Regions from separate parts of the Homo sapiens genome. Here region 1 is linked to region 2. The links come from fine-mapping of genetic effects on gene expression. A gene starts in region 2. The other region holds a variant in brackets. All regions are shown on one strand. Distances are from middle to middle. Region 1 overlaps IQSEC3 (IQ motif and Sec7 domain ArfGEF 3). Region 2 holds the start of IQSEC3 (IQ motif and Sec7 domain ArfGEF 3).

Region 1 (11,091 bases), 74 kb after region 2:
CCTGTGTTGCCAACAGCATCTCGTGCTGCAAAAGGATGCTCTTGGGCCTGGGGTTTTCCTAGAAGTATAAATAGGCCAGACGGGAAAGAAATGTGAAATCTGGCCGGGCGCAGTGGCCCACGCCTGTAATCCCAGCACTTTGGGAGGCCAAGGTGGGCGGATCACCGAGGTGCCAGGAGTTCAGGTCCAGCCTGGCCAACATAGCAAAACTCTGTCTCTACTAAAAAAAATACAAAAGTTAGCCAGGCACAGTGGCACATGCCTGTAATCCCAGCACTTTGGGAGGCCAAGGTGGGGTATAAATAGGCCAGACGGGAAAGAAATGTGAAATCTGGCCGGGCACGGTGGCTCACGCCTGTAATCCCAGCACTCTGGGAGGCCAAGGTGGGCGGATCACCAAGGCACCAGGAGTTCAAGTCCAGCCTGGCAAACATGGCAAAACCCTGTCTCTACTTAAAAAAATACAAAAATTAGCCAGGCACAGTGGCGCACACCTGTAATCCCAGCTACTCAGGAGGCTGAGGCAGGAGAATCGCTTGAACCCAGGAGGCGGAGGTTATGGTGAGCCGAGATCGTGCCACTGCACTCCAGCCTGGGTGACAGAGCGGGACTCCATCTCAAAGAAAAAAAAAAGAAATGTGAAATCTGTCAGTTTCTCATGGTGCTTGAATAGGGCTGACAGACAGAAATTGAGAGAAAAGGAGACATTTTAGTGATCAGTTCCCCTTCCTCTCTACATTTCCCCTTGGGGAAGGACTTTCCTGCCTGAGCCAAAGCCAAGTCCCTATTCCAGGCCTCAGGGAATGTGTCAAAGTTCAGCAGGGAGAATGAGCCAAGCTACATTATTTCCACAGGAGCAGGAACAGAATGCCTCAGAGGCAAGTATCTGTGTCTCTTATGGGTGCATGAGGTCATACCTAGTAAAGATCAAGTGGGGAAGTGTCCAGTTCGTACCGTGGGCAAAATTCTCAGATGGCCCCCAAGTCCCCTTCATGCTAGTGTACACATCCTATATAATCCCCTTCCCTTGAGTATGGGCAGGATGAGTGAATGTGATGGGACATCACTCCAATGATTAGGTTACCAATTGGTTGATTTTGAGTTAATAAAAAGAAACATCACCCAGGGTGGGTCTGAGCTAATCAGGTCAGCCCTATAAATGAAGCTGAAGCCCCAGACAGACACTGTGCCGTTAGCCTTGAAGGACCAAGCTATCAGGTTATGAAGCAGGCCACATGGTAGGGGACAGCAGGCAACCTCTAGTGACTGAGGGCCTAAGTCCTGTGATTACAAGGAATTGAATTGTGCCAACAAGAGCGAGCTCAAAGGAGGACCCCACACCTTAGATGATATTGCAGCCCTGACTGATATCTTGGTTTCAGCCTGGTGAGATCCCGAGCAGATAACCCAGATGAGCTGTGCCCAGACTAGATTCACAGAGCTGCATGAGAAATAAACAGGTGCTACTTTAAGTGGCTGGATTTGTGGTCATGTGTTACACAGCAATAGATGAGGAATACACTTGGTGTGGTTTAGAGCACCTTGAAGACCCCTCCAATAGGGGGATTGTGATAGCACTGGGAGCTTCCTCCTGCTCAGGGCCTTGTCCCTCATGAAATGCAAGTAACTTTGGGAGAAGCCATATAGGAAGGCTTAGTTGCCATTTACACATTAATCTGCGTGAGTTCCAACGATCTCCAAGGGTAGAGTTGGATGTTGGGGGAGACAGAATGATGTCCCCAGGTTTGGGAATGGGGAATGGGAATGGCCAGGCTGGAAGCACTGGAGGCAAGCACTAAGGATGTCTCATTTTATCTGGGATTGTCCTTGGGGATTGGGGTTGAATCCACAAGGTGTCCTGAGCTAAGAGGCTACCTCTGCTAGCGTGGAATGGGGCACCCATCACACCCTGCAGGGAGGGAGCAGAGGGCACGGCTGGGCTGTGGGAGGCAGGCATTCATTCTGGCTGCAGCCTTTGGGGGCTCCAGTGGAGCAGGAAGCAGGTTGAAGTGTTGTGCTGAGGGATGAAGTATGGCCTTTCTATCTGTACCCTCGCCATCCATGATCCCTGGAGAACAATCTGTACCCTCCCCACCCATGATCCCTGGAGAACACGGGACGTCCCTGTTCTTGCCTTGAGTCGTTCATCTCAGCGCACCCATCCCGATTCTTCGTTCATTCGGGAAGGACACCACGTGTAAGTGGCATGTCTGGTTGTGAATAGGAAACACTCGCACTTCCCAAACTTCTCTGAGGGCTGATCAGAGTCTAGGATGCCACCATTTAAGCCCATCACCTTCACACAGGCCTTGTCCCTTATTTAAAGGCAGAAGCCTCTGGGGGCATGGCTGTCATACCTCCCCAGTCCTTTCCTGAGAAGTTTCCATAGGGAGGAAAAGTGAGAGCGTAGCAACCTGAGAGGAGAAAACCCACGGACAGGAGGACAGAGCCGAGAGGAGGCACGCTGGCCCCCTGACAGAAGTTTTCCTGGGATCAGATCTGCCCAGGTGAGGTGCCATGCCCCCGAGCCCACCCCACCCAGCCCTGCCCTGGTTGGACAGCTCCCACCGTAAGAGCAGAGGTGACTCAAATTGGGGAACTCTTGGTAATGGTGGCCTGGAGGGACCCCCATTCTTGAGACACCCACTCAACTTTTTAGCAAATCCACGTTTACTGAGCAGCTAACTATGTACTGGGAACACACAGATGGTCCAACCCCAATCCCGACCCTTCTGATGTTCCCAGGGAAAGGAGCCACCCCAACACAGAGACATGGTTGCTGGGGAGGAGCAGGGAAGCACGAGGAGCTGTGAGGGTTTTTAGCATTTATGTTTTTCATTGTTTAGGGGAGGAGCGGGGAAGCACGAGGAGCTGTGAGGTTTTTTAGCATTTCTGTTTTTCATTGTTTATTGTTTTAAAGTGTGCACAAAAGTAGAAACGACAGTGTTATAAACTCCCCCGTAGCTATCATCCAGCTGTAACCATTTTATTAATATTTATTAACATTAATATTGTGTCATCTAACTCTTCCACATTTTTTGACAGAATATTTTAACACAACTTCAAGATATCATGCATTTTACCCATAAGTACTTCTGTATGCATCTCTGACATGAACTTAAAAAAAAAAAAAAAAAGAAGAAAAGAAAAGAAAAAAACAGAGACAAGGTCTCACTGTTTTGCCCAGGCTGGAGTGCTGTGGTACAATCATAGCTCACTGTAATCTCCAACTCCTTGGGCTCAAGCAGTCCTCCCACCTCAGCCTTCCCAGTAGCTGAGGACCACAGGCGTGCGCGCACCAGGACACCCAGTTAATTTTTTTTTTTTTTTCAAGAGAGAGACAAGGTCTAGCTATGTTGCCCAGCCTGGTCGCAAACTCCTGAGCTCAAGCAATCTTCTCTCCTTAGCCTCCCAAGATGCTAGGACTGCAGGCCTGAGCTAATGCGCCCGGCCATGAACATTTTGTAATACCCGCCACAGCATCGATATCTGAACGCCATATGCAGCACCTCCCTCCTGGCCCTTGAGACATCACTAGTCCCCAGAACGGACCCCTCCGTCCTACACCTCTAGGAGTCTTGCCACGTGGCCAGGACGTTCTAGGCGGTTCAGACTTTAGCTGCCCAGGAGCGCCCCCCCGCCCCCGTCCATTCCTGGGCCCCACCCGAGTGTGGCCGGGTGACTCCACCACTCCTCAGAAGGGCTGACCACCCTTCCCCTCTGAGCCCTTCCTCCTCTCTGTCCTCGTCCTTGCAGATTGAAATGCTAGAACATAAGTACGGCGGTCACCTGGTGTCCCGGCGCGCCGCTTGCACCATCCAAACCGCCTTCCGCCAATACCAGCTCAGCAAGAACTTCGAGAAAATCCGCAACTCGCTTCTGGAGAGCCGCCTGCCACGGCGGATCTCCCTGCGCAAGGTGCGGTCACCCACGGCCGAGAGCCTGGCGGCCGAGAAAGCGCTCATGGAGGGCTACGGCCTCGTGGGGCTGCCGCTGGTGCGCTCGCCCTCCCTGCCGCCCACCTTCGCAGGCACCCTCACCGAGCTGGAGGACTCCTTCACCGAGCAGGTGCAATCCCTGGCCAAGTCCATCGACGACGCGCTCAGCACGTGGAGCCTCAAGACCATGTGCTCCCTGCGGGAGAGTGGCGCTTACCAGCTCCACCAGGCCCTGCAGGCGGCCGCGGGGCCCCCAGGCCTGGAGGCCGAGGGGCGGGCGCCGGAGAGCGCGGGCCCCGGGCCCGGGGATGACGCCGCGGAGACCCCCGGCCTGCCCCCGGCCCACAGCGGGACCCTCATGATGGCTTTCCGGGACGTCACGGTGCAGATCGCCAACCAGAACATATCCGTCTCCTCCTCCACGGCTCTGTCGGTGGCCAACTGCCTGGGCGCTCAGACGGTCCAGGCCCCCGCAGAGCCCGCGGCGGGCAAGGCCGAGCAGGGCGAGACCTCTGGGCGGGAGGCCCCGGAAGCCCCCGCCGTGGGCCGGGAGGACGCGTCAGCCGAGGACTCATGCGCAGAGGCTGCGGCTAGTGGGGCGGCGGATGGGGCCACAGCCCCCAAAACAGAGGAGGAAGAGGAGGAGGAGGAGACGGCGGAGGTGGGGAGAGGGGCCGAGGCCGAGGCAGGCGACTTGGAGCAGCTGAGCAGCAGCAGCACGTCCACCAAGTCCGCCAAGTCAGGCTCGGAGGCGTCGGCCTCCGCCTCCAAGGACGCCCTGCAGGCCATGATCCTGAGCCTGCCGCGCTACCACTGCGAGAACCCAGCCAGCTGCAAGTCGCCCACGCTCTCCACCGACACCCTGCGCAAGCGGCTCTACCGCATCGGCCTCAACCTCTTCAACATGTAAGTCAGCCCCGGCCCCCAGCCCGGAGTCCTGGGCGTCCTGGGAGGGAGGGAAGGAGGAGGGCACCTTCCCTCCACCAAGCAGGGCGCCAGGTAACTTCCCACGTCATGCCAGGGTCCTCCAGGCAGGCGCATCTGTGCCGTGCCTGATCCCTGAGGTCATGTTTAGGAAGTACATATTTTATTTTAATCATCCTGAGTTTATTTTAAGAAAGATTAAAGGAAAAAAATAACACATCAGACACATGCTTTCACAACTGTTACAGCTTAAGATGAAGCTAGGGTTTGAAAAGTAAGAGAATGTAAAAGAAAAGACAGTATTAAGTAAATAACAGTCCAGGCCGTTTGAGGATTACGCAGCAATCATTCGGGTGGATATGAAGCCAGGGAAAACGCATTAGCTCCCAGGGTTGGTGAAATGCGAGGCTGGGTGGGGGAGGGAGGAGAGGCGCCTCGTAAAGAATGCCGGCTGAGAGCAGGAGAGGGGAGGGCTACGAGGAAGAGAGAGTGTGAAGCAGGCAGAGGCACAGGAGAAAGAGAACAGGGGAGAAATGACCGACCGCCATAGCTCAGAGACCCCAGCGAGACCGGGACTGGTCCTGCACCGAATGTATACAGCCAGTCCCAAGCAGAGGAAAGGAAGCACACCTGCCCCTCCCATGGAAATGTCAGGTCCAGGAGGCAGGCACTCGCCTCCATCCTCCACTCGCCCCTTCATAACCCTGCGCCAAGAGCACATCTCCCCGGCCCTAATGCGTGTTCATTC[G/A]TTCATTCGGCTGTTATTTATTGGGTGCCAGGCACTGTGACCACAGAGGTGAGAAGGACACATCCCCTGGCCTCAAGAGGCTCCTATTCTAGGGGAAGTAGCTACTGTTCATAGCTCACCTTACATAAAGCATCTGTAATCTTCCAGCAGTATCTACACAGAGGTATTACCATGCTGTTTTACAGAAAAGAAGCCGGCTCACACCAGTAAGGCGAAATGCACACGATGAAATAGCTAGTACTCGGCAGACCTAGGGAAAGGCGGATCTGACTCTGAACCACTCCCACTTCTGCAGTGTCTCTTCTGCATGCACATGAAAACTCATACAGACACTCATCTGCCCCAAGACAGGAATTCTTAAACTATCCATAGTGAAGAACCAGTTTTGTTCCCCCACACCCTTCTGAAAATACATTGTGGGCTAATACTTTTGTAAAATACAATAAAAATGAGGTGCTAGAAAGACAATCACATGCCTGGCTGTCCCGGAAAATGTCGAAATGCTATGGGAGGTTCTCAGTGCTTACCTTGTGTTTCTGTACTTATCTCCTCCCGGACCTGTGAGGAACAGCTCAGGGAGCAGCATGGCTTCAAAGCTTGCAAAGGGAAGAGGTGGTGTGGCGGAGGTCTCACCTCTGTTTCTCCCACCCTCTCTCCAGGGTTGGGGCGTCTGCGGTGGGGACCTGCATATTGACAACAGGATATGGGTAGGGGGAAGGGCAGGACTGGGGTAAGACCCAGGAGGCAGGGACAGAGAAGGGTACTTCTCCTCCATCTGCTCTGGAATTCACTTTGTTTGCAGATCTCCCCTGTCCTCCTTCTGGTCACACACCATCCTCTGCGTGAGGACATTCAGTGGGTTGAGGCTCTGGTGAGAGAAGCTTCAATGGGGAACTGGATTTCCAAGAACCTCTGGGTACTTCTATGGGTGGAAGACAGGGAGGAAAGAGTCATGGATGGCTTCAGCTCACTCTCTACTGCTTCTCCCCACCCCCACCTCCAGAAACCCCGACAAGGGCATCCAGTTCCTGATCTCACGCGGCTTCATCCCGGACACCCCCATCGGTGTGGCCCATTTCCTCCTCCAGCGAAAGGGCCTCAGCCGCCAGATGATTGGAGAGTTCCTGGGCAACAGCAAGAAGCAGTTCAACCGCGACGTGCTGGAGTGAGTACCCCACACTCCGGGCTTTCCCCACTCCTTCCCACACCCCACCTGCCCGGGCTCTCTCTGTGAGCTCCTTGGTGAAATCCTCGCTCCAGTTCTAACAGCTTCCAGCTTCCAGATTGTCCACAGGAACCAGAATCCCCTCTTTAGCCCATCACCCCAGTGGGCCGGAGCCCTGTCTCCCGTCAGAGTCATTGATTGAGTTCGCCCCAGGCCAGGCTTCGTTTGAGGCAGCAGGGATACAGAAATGGTCCAAAGAGACAAAAAGCCCTTTCTGCCTGTCACTCTCCAGGGCAAGAGAAACCAGGAAAAGGAAAGGGCTTGTGTCAGCACTGGGGTTCATCTCTGCCTGGTGAAGAGCCCCTCAGCCCCCCTCCCCCAGGACCCTCCCATTCTCCAAGGTTCATTTTCATATCGCTGGAGGCAAAAATGTGAGACAGAAAAAAGAAGGGGTTAAACTGAGGGTTTTAGAGCAAGAAAATACTACAATTCCATAAAGATAAATCTACCAACAAAATCATGACCAAAGAAAAATTGTTTCTTTAAAACCAAAGAAAATGGTTTTAAAGTCCAGTAGCAGGGTGGGGACCCCCAGGGGGCTGCCTTTGCCCCCGCTCAGCCTTGATAGTGTGGACAGGCAAGAGTCTCTTCACACTCATGCCTTGTCCAGAATGGCAGGGCGGGGCTGGCGCTCCTCTGAGGCTGAGGGGCCTTGCAGCTACTCCTTCCCTGGGACATCGGCTTCAGCCCCTGCCATGCCCCCGTGCTCTTTCTGGCTTCCACTGGTCCCCGAGGTTGGCCTCCTTCTTGAAGGTCTCCATTCTTCAGGGACCCTCCCTCATTTCTCTCCCCTCTTTCTCCTTGGGGACAGTCAGCAGAAGTGTCTCCCCGGAGGCCCTGGGAAGAGCTCTCCCTTTCATCCTCGCTCCTGGAGCAGCAAGGGACTGCCAGAGAGGGTTTGGACGCTGGGGGAGTCATCCACCCAGTGGTCAGCTTCCCTGGAGTGGGAGCTTGGATATTTCACTTCTATTTATGGAGCTGTCTTGGTGCTGTGTGCCCATATTGAGAAGCCCCTGTCCTCTGGGCCTGCGTTTCCATGCCTGCAGAGTGGTGCTGGGTTGTGAGGGCTGGACCCATTGCCCTCTGAAATCCCTGTCACATTTCTAAATCCACTGACGCGGTGGTTTTCTGACTGAGTTCAATGAGTGAGGGCTGGGGTTCGCACAGGTACCTTGAAATCCCTGCACAGCCCTCAGCTGGGCAGAACTGAGTTCCTGTCCCTGACTCTTGGTGGCTTTTGACAATTTATCATCCCTCCTGGAGCTGCTGGTGGAGACGCTCTGTGGACCTCAAAGAGGAAAGAGAGACAATGCTAGGCAGCGCCTCCCTCTCACCTCCTTTCTCTTCTCCCTCCGGCTTCCCTTCCCTTCCCCAGCACTGCTGTGGGGGCCCATGGAGGTGCTACTGGGATCCAGGATACATCTAGGTTGCAGAAGGGGAGAGATGGCATTTCCTCACGCCCTTCCTTTTCTGTGTCCCCTAGTTGGCTCATCTCTCTGGCTTTCCTGCACTGTTGTCCCAGTCCATCCCTTCCCAAGCCAGGGTGAGGTGCTGGCCCCGTAGCCCCAGGCACCCCTGCTGTCTCTCTGCTCTGGGGGCAGGAGTGACTCTGCTTCACCCACAGGCCCTGACTGTTGTCTGTTTTCTTCTGTCTTTCCCAGTCTCCATGTGGCCTGCGCCCTAAATTCTAACCTGCAAGGCCCACATTGATCTGGAGTGCTGGGAACACAGCGTTTTCCTGCAGCCCAGGTGGTGCTGAGTCGCACAATGGAAACTAATTGCCCTCTTCCCTGGGAGGCTGCGTGTATGGGCTGTGGGCTGGAGGCTTGGAGCAGTGGCTGCAAGCCTGTGCTGAGGAGGGGAGCTGGGCTGGGGGCTGGGGGCTGGGCTAACCTTAGGTAGGGATCAGGCTTGGGATGGGTAGGGGCCAGACTCCCGCGTTGGTACACTCTTCCAGTGAGAAGAGGCAGCGTGGTGAGATAGGAGAAATAGCTGGACCCGGGCTCTGCTCCTCTGTGCTGTGTGGCTTTGGCAGGACACCTCTCTGGGCCTCGGTGTCCTCATCTGTAAAATGAGAGGGCTGGGCGATGTGATTGCAAAAGTTTCTCCAAGTCCTGAGAATCTACCACCTTTCCCATCTCTTAGTGCATTGGTAGCACTGCCCTAAACACTGGGGCATGATTTGTCATCCTGCCAGAGCAGCCCACAGGCCCCAGGGCCGTGCTGGGGTGCCAGAGTTCATGCAGGGCAGTGCTGGGGTGCCAGAGTTCATGCAGGGCAGTGCTGGGGTGCCAGCGTTCATGCAGGGCAGTGCTGGGGTGCCAGCGTTCATGCAGGGCAGTGCTGGGGTGCCAGGGTTCATGCAGGGCAGTGCTGGGGTGCCAGGGTTCATGGGGGAATGAGTTGGCCATTTGTTATTCATTCAACAAACATCGAGCACTTATTTATTGTGTGTTGAGAATGGGGCCACGCTGGGCACCCGTGTGTGTGTGTGTGTGTGTGTGTGTGTGTGTGTGTGTGTGAAGAGGCATGGCTCACAGTCTCAGGGAACGTACAGACCCAGGTGTGGATGGGGAGAGGTGAGAAGCAGGAGCATGGAAAGAGAGTGAGAAGAGCAAGGGGCCTCCAGCCGGAACCCTGGCTTGGGCAAGGTTGAGTGCAGAGCTAAGCCCTGATATGCCCTGGTGAAAGCCGCAATCCCTCATGCTTGATTGTGTAGCCCTGCAGGCCTGGCATGCTGACTCAGCGCCACAGAAAGGAGCCCCTCCCTGAAGTCCATAGGTCACTGACTGCCTTGCTTCTCTCCGAGGTGGAGAGGGCCCTGTCCTGCAAAGGGCAGGAGAAGATGGAGAAGCAGAAAGTGGCAGGCACTAGCAGGGGAGGGGGGCGCTGGAGTCTTTGCATTTCCCTTCCACTCTGACTGTGTCTTCCTTACTCCCGCCGGAGAAAACACACACACTAACCGAGTCGCCAGGTGCCATTTTGCCCAGGCCTGGAAGGCTTCACTGGGATTCTATACGGCTCCCCTGCCCCCGCCTGGTGACATTCAGCAAGCGGTATTCATTCTGTACAAAGCTGTTTGCCGAATAAAAGGATATAAATCACCCATCCCCTTGGAGACTAAAACAGCCCAAACCGCAGCACTCTCCCAAGAAGCAGCCGATGAGGAAGAGCCGATGAGAAAGCCTCTGAGAGGGGAAGGGTGTGCTTCCCAACCGTCAGGCCTGTGCGGAAAGGAAGAGGAGGGAGAGAGCAGCTGCCACCTCGGCTGCTGGTCTGTGTCTGAGCATCATGAATGCTGTGACATTTGCTTTCAGAATTCGGCCCTCAGCGCTCTTGGAAGCTGACATCTCCATCCTTTTGTATCTTATTTTCACAGAAGACACATTCCAAGAAGGAATGTATTCTTACCAGGCCTTATCAAATGACAATAATAGAAGGCATTCTGAGCTCAAAGAGCCACACCCATTCCAGTGTTTACCTGCAAAGGTTTCGCTTTTGGTTTTTTTGAGACAGAGTCTTGCTCTGTTGCCTGGAGTGCAGTGGTGCAACCATGGCTCACTGCAGCCTTAAATTCCCAGGCTCAAGAGAACCCCTCACCTCAGCCTCCTGAAGAGCTGAAACCACTGGCATGTGCCACCACACCTGGCTAATTGTTAAATATTTTTGTAGCGATGGGGGTCTCACTGTGTTGCCCAGCTGGTCTCAAACTCCTGGCCTCACACAGTGCTCCCACCTCAGCCTCCCAAAATGCTGGAATTACAGGCATGAATCACTAGGCCCAGCCTGTTTGTTTTTAGAGAAGAAATCAGCCTCAGTTTCCTCATTAGTAAAATGCTGGTAAGAGTACCTGTCTCATATGAATCAAACGTTTTCAATGTACATGAAGTGCCTGATGCTTAGTAAGTTATCTGTAAATGTTAGCTCTTTCTTTTCTTTTTCTATTAGAGACAGGATCTCTCTTTGTCACCAGGGCTACTGGGCAGTGGCATGATCAAAGCTCGCTGCAACTTGAACTCCCGGGCCCAAGTGCTCCTCCTACCTCGGCCTCCTGAGTAGCTGGGACTACAGGCTAAATGTTAGCTATTTCATTATTATCTTTTCTACTTAAAAGCACAGACATTAGAACCCTCCACTCCCCGCCATCCCATTCCCCGCGCACAAGGAAACCTCCTCAAACATGACTCAAACTCAGGTCTACTAGGCAGACAATGAGAACTTGCTGGAACTTGCTGGGCTTTGCTGGGAAGGGGGTC
Region 2 (11,091 bases):
CACAATCTAAGGTCACACCTCAAGGAACTACAGCAACAAGAACAAACCAAACCAAACCCTAGCAGAAGAAAAGAAATAGCAACGATCTGAGGAGAACTAAATGAAATTGAAACAAAAAAATAAAAAAAGCTAAGGAAAAAGCTGGCTCTTTGAAAAGATAAACAAAATTGATAGATCATTAGTGAGGTTAACCAAGAAAAGAAGGAGAAAGTCCTAATAAGCTCAATTAGAAATGAAACAGGAGATACTACAACCGATAAAATAGAAATACAAAGAATCATTCAATGCTACTATGAACACCTTTACAAGCTAAACTAGAAAATCTAGAGGAGACAGATAAATTCCTGAAATAAGCAACCTTCCTAGATTAAACCAGGAAGAAATAGAAACTCTGAACAGACCAATAACAAGCAGTGAGATTCAAATGGTAATTTAAAAATTGCCAAACAAAAAAAAAAGTCCAGGACCAGAAGGATTCACAACTGAATTCTATCAGACATTCAAAGAAGAATTCTCAACAATTCTACTGAAATTATTCCAAAAGACAGAGAAAGAGGGAATCCTCCTTAAATAATTCCATAAAGCCAGTATCACCCTAATATCAAAACTAGGGAAGGACATAACAAAAAAAGAAAACTACAGACCAATGTCCCTGATGAATATAGATATAAAAATCCTCAACAAAATACTACCTAACCAAATCCAACAGCATAGCAAAAAGATAATCCCCCATGATCAAGTGGGTTTCACACCAGGGATACAGGGATGGTTTAACATCCACAAGTCAATAAATGTGATACACCACATAAACAGAATTTTTGTTAAAAAAATCACATTGTCATCTCAATAGACACAGAAAAAGCATTTGACAAAATCCAGCATCCCTTTATGATTAAAACCCTCAACAAAATCTACATAGAAAAAAACATACCTTAAGGTAATAAAAGCCATCTGTGACAAACCCACAGCCAACATTATATTGAAGGGGAAAAAGCTGAAAGCATTCCCCCTGAGCACTGGAACAATGTAAGGATGCCCACTTTCACCACTTCTATTCAACATAGTACTGGAAGTCCTAGCCAGAGCAATCAGACAAGAGAAAGAAATAAATGACATCCAAATTGGTAATGAGGAAGTCAAACTGTTGCTATTTGCTGATGATATGATTGTATACCTAGAACACCCTAAGCACTCACCCAAAAAGCTCCGAGATCTGATAAATGAATTCAGTAAAGTTTCAGGATACAAAATCAATGTACACAAATCAGTAACACTGCTAGACTCCAACAGCAACCAAGCTGAGAAACAAAGCAATAACTCAACCCCTTTTACAATAACTGCAAAAAATAAAATAAAATACTTAGGAATATACCTAACCAAGGAGGTGAAAGATCTCTGCAAGGAAAACTACAAAACATTGCTGAAAGAAATCATAGATGACACAAACAAATGGAAACATACCCCATACTCATGAATGAATAGAATCAATATTGTGAAAATGACCATACTGCCAAAAGCAATCTATAAATTCAATGCAATTCTCATCAAAATACCATTATCGTTCTTCACAGAACTAGAAAAAAAAAAAACCTTAAATTCATATGGAACAAAAGAGCCCACATAGCCAAACCAAGACTAAAGAAAAAGATCAAATCTGGAGGCATCACATTACCTGACTTCAAACTATACTACCAGGCTATCATCACCAAAACAGCATGGTACTGGTATAAAAATAGGCACACAGACCAATGGAAGAGACTAGCAATCCCAGAAATAAAGCCAAATACTTACACCCAACTGATCTTTGACAAAGCAAATGAGAACATAAAATAGGGAAAGGACACACTATTCAACAAGTGGTGCTGGGATAATTGGCTAGCCACATGTAGAAGAATAAATCTGCACCCTCATCTCTCACCTTATACAAAAATCAATTCAAGATGAATCAAATACTTAAATCTAAGACCTGAAATCATAAAAATTCTAAAAGATAACATTGGAAAAACTCTTCTAGACATTGGCTTAGGCAAAGAGTTCATGACCAACAACCTGAAAGCAAATGCAACAAAGATAAATAGAAGGACTTAATTAAACTAGAAAGCTTCTGCACAGCAAAAGAAATAATCAGCAGAGTAAACAGACAACCCACAGAGTGGGGGAAATTTTCACAAACTATGCATCCAACACAGGTCTAATATCCAGAATCTACAAGGAACTCAAACAAATCAGCAAGAAAAAAACAAATAATCCCATCAAAAAGTGGGCTAAGGACATAAATAACAATTCTCAAAAGAATATATACAAATGGCCAACAAACATATGAAAAAAATGCTCAACATCACTAGTGATAAGGGAAATGCAAATCAAAACCACAGTGCTGGCCAGACATCGTGGCTCACACCTGTAATCCCAGCACTTTGGGAGGCTGCGGCAGGTGGATCACCTGAGGTCAGGAGTTCAAGACCAACAGGGTGAAACCCACATCTCTACTAAAAACACAAAAATTGCCGGGCATGGTTGTACACTCCTGTAGTCCCAGCTACTTGGTACTTGGGAGGCTGAGGCAGGAGAATCACTTGAACTCCAAAGGCTGAGGCAGATGAATCACTTGAACCCAGGAGGTGGAGGTTGCAGTGAGCTGAGGTCGAGCCACTGCACTCCAGCCTGGGTGACAGAACAAGACTTTATCTCAAAAACAAACAAACAAAACAAACAACAACAACAAAAAACACCACACAATGTGATACCACCTAACTCCTGCAAGAATGGCCATAATTTAAAAATCAAAAAATAATAGATATTGGCATGAATTTGGTGAAAAGGAAACACTTTTACACTGCTGGTGGGAATGTAAACTAGTACGACCACTATGGAAAACAGTATGGAGATTCCTTAAAGAACTAAACGTAGATCTACCATTTGATCCAGCAATCCCACTACTGGGTATTTATCCAGAGGAAAAGAAAGCATTATATGAAAAAAAGACACTTGCACACATATGTTTATAGCAGCACAATTCACAATTGCAAAAATATGAAACCAGCCCAAATGCCCATCAATCAATGAGTGGATTTAAAAAGGAATGAAATAATGGCATTGGCAGCAACCTGGATGGAGTTGGAGATCATTATTCCAAGTGAAGTAACTCAGGAATGGAAAACCAAATATCATATGTTCTCATGTGTAAGTGGGAACTAAGCTATGAGGACTCAAAGGCTTAAGGATGATGCAATGGACTCTGGGGACTTGGGAGAAGGGTGGGAGTGGGGTAAGAGATAAAAGACTACACATTAGGTACGGTGTACACTGCTCAGGTGATGGGTGCTCCAAAATCTCAGAAATCACCACAAAAGAACTTATCTATGTAACCAAACACCACATGTTCCCCAGAAACTATTAAAACAAAAATCATCATAGTAATTTTTAAAATAATAAAAAATTTAAAAAGAAAGACACGAAGTAGTGTATACTGTATGATTTTTATGTGAAATTCCACAACAGACAAAACTAACATATACTGGCAGACAGCAAGTCAGTGGTTAACTGGAGCTGAGGATGAGAGGAACTGACTAAAATAGGGCATGAACATTTGTCAAAATTCATTGAACTGTGCACATAAAATGGGAGCATATCATTGGATATAAATTATAAGTCAACAAAGTTGATTTTTTTAATGAAAAAAGTTTTTAAAATAAAAATTCTTGGTCCCCATTCCTAGTGATTCCAATACAGCAGGACTGGTATTATGGGAGGAGACCACCCCTCATATTGCCTTATGCCCATTTTCTGCCTCCAAAGAAAGAAAAACTAAAAACTAAAAGGCAGAAATGAAATCCACAAGCAGACAGCCCGGCGCCACACCCTGGGCCTGGTAGTTAAAGATCGACCCCTGACCTAATCGGTTATGTTATCTATAGATTACAGACATTGTATAGAAAAGCACTGTGAAAAATCCCTATCCTGTTGTGTTCCGATCTAATTACCGGTGCATGCAGCCCCCAGTCACGTACCCCCTGCTTGCTTAATCGACCACGACCCTCTCACGCGCACCCCCTTAGAGTTGTGAACCCTTAAAAAGGACAGAAATTGCTCACTCGGGGAGCTCAGCTCTTGAGACAGGAGTCTTGCCGATGCCCCCAGCCAAATAAACCCCTTCCTTCTTTAACTCGGTGTCTGAGGAATTTTGTCTGCGGCTTGTCCTGCTACAATATAGGGCTCAGAAATCTGCATTTTCAACAATCCGCATGGATAATTATGCTGCAGGCTGTTTCACTTATCGTATTCGTCTCTAATTTGCTGTCCAAGCACCCAATTCTTGGACAGCAAATCAACTAGGCAAACAAAGAAAATTCAGAAAAAAGAGTTTGAGTTTTTGTGTGCCCTTGTTTCATCCCCCAACCTCCATTCTTTAGCTGGAATGCTGGTCACTACCAAAGCATCCTCCTGTGTGCTGTTTCCCCTAACCGTGAGCTCAGCTGTGGATAAGCTTCCTTTATTCATTCTTTACCAAAGAAAGTTTGCTAGGAAGATAAATGGGAGAAAAGCAAAATAAAAACACATCAGGAATGCAGATAAACCAATATATGTGCAGAGCACAAGTTCCTTCTCATAAGGTCATTCAAGTCTGGCACCACGTGGTGGTGGGGGGTGGGCCAGCTCACTGGGCACATGGTACCCATAAATATGCCTACCCTGGGGGAATGGAAGGTTGACAGGGAGCCTGATGGACATGTGTGTGAAGAACGGAACAACACAATAACAAACATGCGAAGCGTACTCATAGCCCTTCCTCCTTCCCATCCCATTCCTATAAAAGAGGAAAGAACAACTCATTTCCTTCACGGGGCATGGTGGTATGCATCTGTAGTCCCACCTACTCAGGAAGCTGAGGCTAGAGGATTCCTTGATCCCAGGAGGTCAAGGATGGAGTAAGCTATGATCCTGCCACTGCACTCCAGCCTCGGTGACAGACAAGACTTTAAAAAAAAAAAAAAGTAAAGGAAAAGAAAAGGAAAGGGATATTTCCCTGCCAAATTAATTTAAACCAAGTGCTCTATTTCCATTCATTAGTTTTTTCCCTGCTGCCTGATGTATCTTTCTCATATCTGGCCCCCTGTTCTGTCTACCTGTTGAAATATTTCCCATTCTTCGTGGCCCAACTTGAGTAACACCTCTGTCAGAACTTATCAGATCAACACAGTCAAATGAATCCTCTCCCTCCCCTGAACTCTATGGCACTTGGCTTGAAGAGCTCTTACAGAAATCTTGAGTTGTGTTTTACTTATTCATGTGCATGGCATATCTACTCTATGAGATTGGAATCAACTTGATTATAGAAATGATAACTTATTATCTATGCTAGATGTGGCTTGCATAGATTCTGTACATTACTTTGCACCTAGTGAGTGGTGATTATTGTAGACATGAATGAATGATTCAATCGGTGCTGATTAATGTCTCTGAGCTTTTGCTCATGCTGTCTTCCCTTTATGGAAAACCCTTCCCACACCAAGGGTCACTTCCTGTAAGAAGCCTCCCTGGATCTCCAAGCTGCTGGCTCCTATAGCACTCTGGGCAAACCTCTGCCTGATTACTCACCACCACTATCATACGTCAAAGTTAATCATGACCAATTTCACCCACTTATTTATAAGCTTCAAAAAGCCTAACATTCCATTCTAGTCATGCTTCTCTTACCACCATCTAGCACAGTGTTTGGTAATAGTGTGCATTTTATAACTGTTTGTCAAATAGAATGATCTATTCAGAAGCTTCTGGAAGCGTTAGCCCTTGCCACAGAGGACCTCGTTTATTTAGTGTTTCTATCAGGAACTGCCACAGTTGTCTTGAGGTCTCACTCCCAGAGGAAACCCAGCATGAACAGCCTTCCCATCCCAAGTTTCGTCACGGATGAAGGAAGGAGCAGGACCAGACGCTCTTTAGGGTCCCTTAGAGCCCCAGGATTCTTGTGTTCCAGGGAATCCCCTGGCAGAATAGATTGCTGCGAGCAAAAGAGGCGAGTGTGGCCCCTCCTCAGCAGGTCTCTAGATGAACCCCAGCCTCTGGAAGGCCTGGACCTGGGAAAAAAGAATTCGCGTCCCTTCAGGGCCCCACGCCTTCCTGTCCTCCAGCACATTTCTCTTTCTTGGCCCCACCTTCCCTTTTTCTGCTTCCTCTCTGCTGGCCTCTCCCCTTCTCTTCCTTTCTTTTCTGTTTCTCTTCTCCTACAGGTCCCACCGCACCTTCCCAGTATCGCTGCTTCCCCTTCGCCTACTTCCCAGTCTGGCCAGTCAGATTCACCGTCCTTCTCGGGTCGCCTGCGTTATCTTGCTTTCCTCCCACGCCCCGACAGAGGCTCCCTCTCGCTGGCCTCCTCCCTCTCCTCTCTGCCCTGCAGGCAGCAGAGCCTTCGCTGACGCCAAGAGGCAGCGAGGTGGGGAGGCGAGGAGTTGGGGAGGTCTGGAGGTAGGGGGTGGGGTGGGGGTGGGGCCTTGCGCAGCCGCCCCGCCCCGCGATGCGTGTGTGAAGGTCGGGGTGGCAGTGACGCGGCGCCGGCGGGGGGAGGGAGGCTGGGCCGGTGGGAGAGGGAGGCGAGCCGACCGCTGGGCTGCTGGGCTCCCGCGCCCTCGCGCTCCCCGCCGCCAGCCCAGGCGCAGGCAGGGCGCAGGCGGCGGCGGGCGGCATGGAGAGCCTGCTGGAGAATCCGGTGCGCGCCGTGCTCTACCTCAAGGAGCTCACGGCCATCGTGCAGAACCAGCAGAGCCTCATCCACACCCAGCGAGAGCGTATCGACGAGCTGGAGCGGCGGCTGGACGAGCTGAGCGCTGAGAACCGCAGCCTGTGGGAGCACCAGCAGCTGCTGCAAGCCCAGCCTCCGCCCGGGCTCGTCCCCCCGTCATCGGCCCCGCTGCCGGCCGCTCCGGCCACCGCTCCTGCCGCCGCCGCCAGGGCCCAGGAACCTCTCCAGGACCAGGGACAGCGCTCAGCAGCCGCGCCGCATCCCGCGCCCGATCGGCCGCCGCGTCAGCACCACGGACAGCTCCTGGAGCAGCCCCAGCGGGGCCCTGGCAGCAGGGCTCACACACCCCAGTCGCCCCACAAGCATCTGGGGACACAAGGGGCCGTGACTGACAAGGAGAAGGAGCGTCCCCCGAGTTGCTGCGCTGCTGCCGGAGCCCTCCTTCAGCACAAATCCCCCTCCGCCCTCGGCAAGGGCGTCCTGAGCAGGAGACCTGAGTGAGCGGGGAGAGGAGATGGGCACTGTTGTGGTGGGAGCAAGGGAAGCAAGTGGGTGTGAGGGAGAGACGGGGACGTTGGGTGCGTAGGAGTCTAAAGGACCGGAGTGATGTGGCCTGAAGGCGCCAGAAGTGTGCAAAGGAGATTTTGGGTAAATGAGGGAACGATATCCCTGCTTGAGAAGGTTTTGGGGAATGCTGGAGCAAAAAGGAGTAACCAGACCATTAGTAGGAGCAAAGGAGGAAGGAGGTGGGTGTTAAGCGATTGGTGATACTGGGAACTGACAGCATTTAAACGGGGTTAGGCTGGGTTGAAGTTCGAGTGAAGATTAAACTGTAGAAAAGAGAACCATTGAAGGAATCTTTTTAAGTGAGAAAAAATTTGGAAGGAAGTTTGGGTAGTAAAAGTATTTGCATGGAGACTGAGATGTGAGAAAAGCTGAAGGCTTGGAAAGAGGCATGTGAAGAGCTTTAAAAAGGCTGGGGCCCAGGAAGAGTAGGACTGGGGTAGAGGGGAATCCAGGAGGCCGGGGACAAACCTGAAAAGCAGGAGTGATGTGGGAAACCAAGGGAGCTGGAGGCAGAGGAAGAGAAAATGTGGCTCTTTAGCTGGTGAAGTGGGAGCCACAGCTAGGAGTGGCTCATTTAGGGAAGCTTTCTCTTCTCTGACCTGATTGGACACCCTTCCTCTGAATTCCCGCAGAGCCGAAGAGGTGCAAGGGAACATCCCATCAAACCAATGGAGGACTCAGGCATGGCTTGAGGACTCAGTCTGGTTACAGCTTTTTCCTCCAACTCAAGGAGGGTTTTTCATACAGGGTGTTTGGCCGTTGTTGAAAGGGAGCAATGACATGGGGGACAGTTGGCAGATGGAGTTGGTATTCAGATGCCATGCCTGTTTAAATCTCCCTGTTAAGGCCAGCAACTGCAAACCCTTTTTTCCCGGTTATCTGGTGATCACTGAAATCTTGCCTTGGGTCCTGAGAGAAATGTTAACCTCTCAGTTCCTAGAACTTCAAGCTCTTTCTTCACTCAGGAGGTCCATGAACTAGGAATATGGGAAGAAGATATGAAAGTGTCTGGGATGTTCTCTCCTCTGTACTGGAAAGGCTGTGGCCATGTCTGCTTCTTTTCTCTGATTAGGCAAGTGATGGAGAACTAAACAAAGAACAGTTCAAGGGAAATTGTCCCTGGTCAGCACCTGACCTTGACAATGGTGATGCATAAGGGAATGGGGAGGGGGAAGTAGAGCTGAGAATCTCATCTTCATCCAGGTGCATTAAGTCTGGGAGATACTTGTGAATATTTGCTGTATTCCTTCAAAACTCATTTTCTTTTACCATCTGTGGTAGAGTTAGAGAAGTTGGGTTAGGGCAGGGTAGCTCACAGAGCACGTTGATCAAAACCACAGGATCTAAGAGGTGAAGGTCTAACATGATCTGGCTTGGCAGACTTAAAACATTTGATTCAAGTCCCAAGAAGATACAGTTTTCTACCCCAACTCCCTCAAAACCCCTTTGTACTTCCCTCAGTTTCACATTTTTATTTTTATTTTTTCCTTATCTGGCATAAAAAGCAGAAAGTCAGTTTTCCCTCAATGCCCAAGGCTCAGCAAAAGGCAACATTGTTCCAAGATACTAAGTGGTCTTTTCCCCCACATGAGGGGATGAATTTTTCCAGTCCCCTTCCCTGAGGGCAGCCACAGCTACCTGGTCATTATGATTTCTCTCCTCATGACTTTTGGTGTCTCCTGTCTCTCCCACTGCAACTCCACTTTCTTTGCATCTCTTCAGGGCACTGTGTGGCCAAGAAGAGTTGAGGAAAGATTATTTTTCTTAGACAAAGACATAGCCATAGCCTTCAGAGTGGCCTACGGAACCCAAACCCTTTCACTCAGTTGGTCCTGCTCGGAATCCTGGGATTTAGGAATCATCTGGGCTCCTGTCCAGCTCCACATGTCAATTCTGGAGAGGAGTTATAATATCCTCACCTTTCCTTCTCACCTGTCCTGCTTTTGCTTCCCAAAGGAGCAGAACAAAAATAAAAAATAATTAGCATGGTGGAGCAGAGTGGAAGTTATTGGAATCTTTCACTTAGAAAGTTGCCCCAGGCACTTAACAGTAATGCCTTACTTTCTCCAGATTCTCCAGCTTTTTCTCCTGCTCCCCAATCCTGCACACTCAGAAACATAGAGACCATAGATGTGCCTGCCTCCCCTCATCCCTGCAGCTCTCCTTCCTTGGATGTGAAAACATGGTAATCTTGGCTGGTTGAATATCTTCTGGACCACTCATTTCTTTCCCCACAGTGGCCCAACTTCAACACCAATTTCCCCACAGAGCTCAGGACGGAATCACCATTGCTAATGACATGTTTCGTCCTACCCTGCTCTCTGCCCGTGGCCCGTTTTGTATGTTTGTTCTCCTCTGCCCATAGTTGTCTATGATGCAGGACAAGATGGAGCCAGCAGGCAGACAGAGATCTCCATGGAGAGGGAGAGGTGAGGAGGAGGAGAGCAGAGCCAGCAGCCCCCTCCCTGGTATTGCTCCTGGGGAGCTCCCCGCAGAACTGGTTCTCTACTGGGAGTGCTGAAGCGGGAGGAAGAGATGGCACAGTGGGTCTTCCAATCATGGGTTTCCTGTGAATCCTCCCTCATTCTTCCTCTGGCCTCCTTTCAGCAAGAACGCGACCCCACTGAGGTGGCTGAAGAGTGGGTGAGGGTTTCCAGAGGCCAGGCACTCTGGTAGATGCATTATGTCCTCACACAGTTTGACTTTTATCCCCAGAACTCCTCTTCCTACCCAATTCCAGGAGAGGCAGAAGCCCTAGATAACTGGGACTGGAAAATAATGAATCATTTAATTGCCATCTTATCTGCATTAATACATAATCTGGCCTCTCTCCCTCCTTCAGCTGAGGGAGACACAAAGGTGGTGGTCTTGGAGGTCAGTCCAAGAAAGCAGCAATATGTGGGTGAGTGAATGCAGAGATATTATGGAAGAAAAACATTTGAAGGGTTAAAATTATTTCTCTGCATGCTTCTTGATTCTTGCTAAGCTCTGACCCCCACTGCTTTTGCCTCTTAATGAAAGCAGCAAACATAGCTTCCTCCTCCTTATTTTTTCAATCAAGGCTCACGGCATCTACAGAATTTATTACTATCCCTTTCCTGGCTGGTGCCAGAACCTCAACTTGACCTGACAAATCCTCTTGCCATGGAAGCACATGAACTTATCTGAAGTGGCTGGCTTCAGTGGCTTCTAAGCACATTTGCCCAACCACCAGTCATGCGTTTAGTGTCCATGGATGACAGGGCTTGTCCATGTCTCCAAGGCCACAGGCAGATGATTGCTGGAGGATAAATTCTTGCATCCCCATTCAAATTCATCTCCTACTCCAAATCCCAACCTCAATATGACTATGAAGTCTGAAGGGCTCCACAGCTCCTGTCTTCTCTCTGTTACATTGCTTCTTCCTTTCACATCCCTCCTCTGCCTCACTACCCTTTTTCCTTCATTCTCTTCTCCCCTTCTACCTCTCCCCCAAACACTTTATCTCTCCCATCTTCTCTTCCTTCTATCCTTCTTCCACATAAGCTACACAGGGAAATCTCTTTCTTCTCTACCCTTATCCTTTAAACACAAAATCAATCTTGAGTATCTTTTGAGCTCCCTCTTCTCATTCTGGCTGGAGGCTGGGGATAGCTAGAAGAGTTCTGGATGTGCTTTTTATCCTGATTTGTCTAAGATGCTGATGGGAACTGGGATCTCTGCTCCTATTGAGTCAGAGTTGCATGCTTGAAGGTGATAGCTCATGACTGGCCCATCCTGGAAACTATTAAGAAAGAAAGTGTGAA

The links. PIP is the estimated chance that this variant, and not a neighbour inherited with it, causes the effect.
Region 1: its variant is fine-mapped to the expression of IQSEC3 in whole blood (INTERVAL, PIP above 0.99). The same link has a PIP of 0.9 or more in nucleus accumbens.

Annotation. Positions count from the first base shown.
Region 1 is chr12:134,511-145,601 of GRCh38, forward strand. IQSEC3 (IQ motif and Sec7 domain ArfGEF 3) reads left to right here. Exons shown (of 14, transcript NM_001170738.2): 4 at 3,757-4,844; 5 at 6,614-6,775. IQSEC3-AS3 (IQSEC3 antisense RNA 3) reads right to left here. Exons shown (of 10, transcript NR_033859.2): 2 at 9,799-10,059; 3 at 8,729-8,899; 4 at 6,824-8,123; 5 at 6,402-6,734; 6 at 6,138-6,293; 7 at 5,730-5,860; 8 at 4,041-4,134; 9 at 3,790-3,942; 10 at 2,901-3,117. Among named protein-coding and RNA genes, the nearest start is that of IQSEC3-AS3, 9.1 kb to the right of the region's middle. RefSeq lists an enhancer at 10,655-11,091. The variant G/A (reference allele first, on the strand shown) is at 5,611.
Region 2 is chr12:60,201-71,291 of GRCh38, forward strand. IQSEC3 (IQ motif and Sec7 domain ArfGEF 3) reads left to right here and starts at 6,567. Exons shown (of 14, transcript NM_001170738.2): 1 at 6,567-7,236. The coding sequence starts at 6,683.